2 separate regions of the Homo sapiens genome follow, and region 1 is linked to region 2. Evidence: fine-mapped expression QTL. A gene starts in region 2. The other region holds a variant in brackets. All regions are shown on one strand. Distances are from middle to middle. Region 1 overlaps RBMS3 (RNA binding motif single stranded interacting protein 3). Region 2 holds the start of RBMS3 (RNA binding motif single stranded interacting protein 3).

Evidence for each region.
Region 1: its variant is fine-mapped to the expression of RBMS3 in iPS cells (HipSci, PIP 0.95).

The regions. Positions count from the first base shown.
Region 1 is chr3:29,344,538-29,347,452 of GRCh38, reverse strand. All of the region lies in intron 1 of RBMS3 (RNA binding motif single stranded interacting protein 3), which reads right to left. Among named protein-coding and RNA genes, the nearest start is that of RBMS3, 65 kb to the right of the region's middle. The variant C/T (reference allele first, on the strand shown) is at 1,313.
Region 2 is chr3:29,279,235-29,282,149 of GRCh38, reverse strand. RBMS3 (RNA binding motif single stranded interacting protein 3) reads right to left here and starts at 1,079. Exons shown (of 15, transcript NM_001003793.3): 1 at 394-1,079. The coding sequence starts at 468. RBMS3-AS3 (RBMS3 antisense RNA 3) reads left to right here and starts at 1,211. Exons shown (of 3, transcript NR_109804.1): 1 at 1,211-1,419. RefSeq lists an enhancer at 2,175-2,224.

The sequences.
Region 1 (2,915 bases), 65 kb before region 2:
CATTGTATTAAATTAAAATAAACAAACCCCTAGACCTTTCCTCTATCAATTTTAGTCAGCATCCTGCATGCAACGAATGAAACCTATTTATTAAATATCTTTAAATATTATAGACCTAGAAATAGCACACTTACCTACACATATTTATGTGGCACTTGAAGAATACTGATTTACATGAAACTTAAAAGTGCTAGAAAGTTAACTTGATGCTTTTCAAAAATTCTTTTAAACAATTTCAGATCTTATTTTAAAAAGAAAATGAAATAAATGACAGGAATTGGCATGATGTTTATGACTTCCCCATTATTTGTCTCTCTCATCAGCCTCCAGAGTCTTCATATTTCCTTTTGGTCACCAAAGGAATTCCCAACATTCTTGGTGAAACTCCTTGTTCATGTAGCCAAAGGCATTAACTGAAAACCTACCACCAGGCTTCACAGAGCACAACTAGAAAAAAACCTGAAATCTGGCAAGAACTTGTTTTTCATAGTGCTTTTAGTTAGAAACATATGGTCAATAGCCATTTAAATGTTATGTTTGCAGGCCAAAGGAGTTCTTTCACGTAATGTTTACTTTGTGTACAAAGAGCTTCAACACCACAATAGCATACATTTGCTTTTATAGAAACTAAGAAATGTTTTAACTAAATTGTGTCTGCAAAGAGTTCTGAAACATGCCCCTGCTAATGCTCATTAATAATCTCTAAAACCGATTGGTCCATGATAGTTCAGGTTTTCTGAAGATATAAGAATGAATTGCTGGCCAGGCGCGGTGGCTCACGCCTGTAATCCCAGGCCAAGGTGAGTGGATCACCTGAGGTCAGGAGTTCGAGACCAGTCCGGTCAACCTGTTGAAACCCCATCTCTACTAAAAATACAAAAATTAGCTGGGCATGGTGGTCGGCACCTGTAATCCCAGCTACTCGAGAGGCTGAGGCAGGAGAATCACTTGAACCCGGGAGGCGGAGGTTGCAGTGAGCTGAGATCGCGCCACTACATTCCAGCCTGGGCGACAAAGCAAGACTCCATCTCAAAAAAAAAAAAAAAAAAAAAAAAAGAATGAATTGCCTTTACTAGGATTCACAATAAAACAGAAATAATCAAGAAAATGAAAGCATAACTGGAAGAAAAATTTCTCAGTCCTATTATTTAGGCATACTTAAAAATATGGCTTTGGTTGCCTCAGCAAACACACAAAATATTGAGGCCCTACTATGTGCTAAGCCATCTGATGGTAATTTGGGGTACTTGTATTCTCTCTGGAGAAGCAATATGCAAGTAAATAGTTATTGTGATTGAGAACTGTCTTATGT[C/T]AATATGGGCCAACTCCAGTTCTATGCAAGTATTCCCTTTGTTTCTTGAACGTGGCTGCACGCCTATGCCCAGTCAGCCACCTGGCAAAAGGGGCTGGGATAATAGACCTAAAGACTCACAGGAAAACCAACATAACAATAATCATAGTTTTAAACTTTGCAGTATCCTCTTGATAAAAGAAGAATGACATTGTTTTAACATACATCTTCACTTTTCCCTTCTCTATATAAAAAAATTGGCTCCTCTGGCCATTTGTACAGTCTGGGGGTATAACCAAACCATTTTTCTAATTAGTTTGAAACACTTCTCTTACTCCAATTAATCATTTTAATTATGCTGTCAACATCTGTGTCGGGACTTCAATCAAACCTGTTTCCTTAATGGCCTCCTCTGGCCATGAATTGTCAGTCTGTCCCTTAAAACATCAGACCCACACATAAACCTGGTTACATGAATTTTCTGGGAGTCTCTAGTAAGTTTCATTAGAGCATGGTGAGCTTTCCATTTGGATGAGAAAATTACATGCAAGGCAAGTAAAATATACAGATGGAAAGAGCTGTCTCCTATGACAGGGCTTCTCATGGAGAGAGGCATTTTATGTCTTTCAGAGGAATCCCCATAAAAGCAATGGGGGAAAAAATTAAGGTTTTAGGTAAAGTATAGCTGAGAGGAAGAAACAGTGAGAGACAAAGAGTGGGGGAAAAAAAAATCCTCCTCCTTTTAAACTGCTAGAATGTAGAGCTTCTTGTTATTAAATATTTCTCAGTCAAGAAAACTGAAATCTATAGCATTTCTGTGACAGAAGCAGATAAAGCCATGAGTTTTCAAGAGACAATTTATTCATTCTTAGTCTTTCTGTTCTCTTCACAAGGGAAATTATAGACAAGACTATCAGGTAGAATTCATTGAATAAATAATGCAAATTGCTGCCCCTTAGCTCTAGAGATCATTTAAAATAATAAAGGAAGTATAGATGAATGGGAGGACCCCAGTCAATAGCTCACTTCCACCATAACTAACAAGTCAGGCTTGAAGGAAAATAGTACAGCAGTAATTTAACTTCAGGGTCTTTAACAAGACAAATATCGCTGCCATCACAGTTGGCTAAATGGTGTTATCAGGATGACTGAAATTCAACAACTGATAATTAAGAATCCTCCAGCCCTTTGTGGAAAGACATTTTGTTGAGCTACAGAGAAATCTGTAGGTCCTGGGCTTGAGTTAAAGGGGACAGCCACTGGGACTGTCTACACACTGTCTTTTCTGAAGAAGTTCCTTATGGAGAAAATGACAAGATAACCTATTTTATTTATTTCCTCTATGCTTAAATGTTGAAAAATTTAAATAATCCTTTTTGGAAAGAGAGAAAGGGAAATATGTACATGAAAATTATAAGCTTAAGCTACTCCCAGAAAAATACCAGTGACTACCTCAATCCCTTGCCTTGTGGTCTGGGTGGCAAATACTGGTAAATATATACAAAAAAGGATAGTCACCTTTCTAAGGGTAGCCTGGTTGCACATAATAGCTAATTGATTTTGGACTGCATTTAAGACATTATCCTCAAAAAAGGGAATATCATTTATAGACACAAGAGTCTTA
Region 2 (2,915 bases):
GCCACAATCAAAGAACAGCTCACCAGAAAAGCCCCTGAAATTATATTCTTGTGCCTGGTAATCACTGTTGTGATCTGCTTTCTAAAAACCGTGCCCATCTGCAAAAGACGTTCCTGATATCAGGACCATTTATGCTGCCAAATAACAACAAAGAAACTGAACTCAAGTGAAACTATTATCTCTCCTTAAAGAGAAAGCTACAATTCCGGGTTTGCTGCTTTCTTCTTATGTCTTCCTCTGCCTCATTAACTCCATTGGTATGTCACTAATTTCAAAGAAGCAGGAAGAAGTGATGGGGGTGGGGGTTAACTAATAATTCACACGCCTGTCTGTTTCCCATCCCAAGTGCAGAACGATACCACGCTGATCGCCAGACCGTGGGTCAAGCCATACCTTGGTTTGGAGATAATGAGGATAGTAGTAAGTGTACTGGGGGTACATTTGTGGCTGATCCAGGCGTTTGCCCATGTAGCTGGAATCTTTATCTCCGAGGCAGGGAACTGGATGACAGGGTATAGTGCCCCAGGCCGAGCTTCCTCTTAAACCACTATTCCTGACAGTCCCGGTGACTGATGAGGCTTCAGAGACTCCACCACTCGCTAGTTCCAACACAGCAAGAATTTTTTTAAAAAACAAAACAAAACAAAAAACACACACCAAAGGAAAAAAAAAAAGGGCGAGGAGTGAGATCTGTAGAAAAAACACCCACACACAGCCTTCCCAGATCTTGCCTGGCTTCCCCCAGCTGCCGGGGTCCACTTGGGATGAGGCAGTTTGTTCTCTAACCAGGCTGTCTGTAGTGATGTCAATTGCCAGCGTTCGTAAAGGGGGAAAAAAATCAAAGTCCTTTTAGCACAACTCCGAATCCTTGCAGATCAGCTTCCTGTCTCTTGGTTGTCTCTTTCCCCACCTTAAAGAAAAAGAAAAAAGAGAGAGAGAAAGAGAAAGAAAGAAAGAAAAAGAAAGAAAGAAAGAAAAAGAAAGGGGAAAAAGAAAAAAAAAAAGAAAAAAAGGAAGAAAAAAAAAAAAAAAAAACCTTGTACAGCTTAGTTGCTGCTGTCTCCCTCCCAGAGTGACATGGTGTTCGGGGCTTGTCCTGTCCTTTCATTCACTTCCCCTCCTTCCAGCCGGTGGGTGGAACCGAGAGAGCCTCTCCAGGGAGCAGCGTACGCAGTCCAGAAGGCTGCAGTATTTCCTCCAAGAAAAAAAAAAAAAAAGGCTGCTTCAACCCCTGCTGCAAGCAAAGTTCCGATTCCCTCTGCTGGCTATCTCGAATAGCAAGCGATTTTTGCAGCAACGCTGCTGCCGCTGGAACTGAACCTGAAGAACTCAAATGCGGGCGGTGGATTATTTCTTATCCCTCCTCCATCTACCCCACACAAGAGCTGCTTTTTGTTCCTCTTTTTGCCAAGTTCCAAGGTAAGCCACACTGCTAAACAAAACACAGAAGAGAGGGAAGAGAGGACGAAAGAAGGAAGGAGGAGAAAGGAAAAGAAATAAAGGCAGGGGAACTAACCTTGCTGGTTAAAGGGGAAAAAAGTAAGTCCCGGATGCTTTCAAAATCTGTTAACACGCTAGAGCCAGACGCATCCAAGAGCTGATTGAGAAACTAACCTTTTACTACCTGGAAAACTTGGTGGATGTTAAGTATTGAAGAAATTTTAGGGTCTACTCCAGGACTACTATTAATGCCACATGTCATCAGATTGGACTGATCAACTGAACATATCAAAAATAATAACTTTTTTAAAATACATCCATTTTGTAAAAAAAAAAAAAAAAAAAATCAAAGGAAGTGACCCCTTAGGTTCGTCAGATATTTTACAGATAAAATCTGTTTCTCCCATTGTCTCTCTCTTTATGATTATTTTGTTGCATTGATGCTTTAATCACTTTACTGATATCATCTAAAAAAAAAAGAACAAAAATCATAATTGCTTGGCAGAGTTTTTTCCCACCAATGATAATATTCTGTCATGTCTATCAGCTGCTACATTATAATACAAATTGTTTCAGATAAAATATATTTCCTTAAAGGGTCCCTTTTCAAGGCGGGCGAGGCTAAAATTAGATGTGCCAGCTGTGTTTTGCTGCGAGTGCTCACGCATGCCCAAAGCGTGGGCAGACCAATACTGAGCTCTTTTCTACTTTGTCAAGTCGGCTCTGTTCTCCTGAGCCCAGAGTCTCCTATTTAGATAAAAGGTCCCTGGTACAAATCCAGCTTCCTAGTCAAGAAGAACAGAGAATTTGGGCTCAGTGCACACATGGTGTCCATCCACATACAAGCCGCACCACCCCTAAAGCAACTGGCTTCCACCGAGGGGAACTGGTTTCTGGAAGCTGTGTGAGTGCATACGTGTTCCTTGGATAAAAATAAGGATGGCAGGTAAATAGTTTTATGTTTTACTTTTGACAAGAATAACAATCAGAAGGAAGGAAGGATGGAGGGTGAGAGGGTAAGAGTTAGGAGGCCCTGACAACATGGTGATTGAGAATATTAAATCAACCCCACCTATCTCTTAAATGTATTATTTGGGGCCTCAGTTGTCCCATCTATAAAATAGAAATACTGCCAACTCTCCTGGCTGAAGGCAGTACACTGAATCAGACACTAAAAATGACACTGATTTAAAAATCCTCCAGTGGTGTCACGTTTCTCAAACAATAAAGTCCTGACTCTTTGGAATAGGTTTCAGGACACTTGACGAGCTGTCTGGCCCTGGCTTTCTACTCTAGTCTCGGACTTTCAACTCTGCCCCTCACATCCTATACCGGAGTCACTCTGAGCTACTTTCAGGACAGGAACATGCTCTCAGAGGCTTCTGTCATTCCCTCTTCCTGGAGTGCTCTCCCAAGTCCATCTCCACCTCTTTTACCCTTCAGCCTGTCCTTCAGGTCTCAGTATGGATATCACC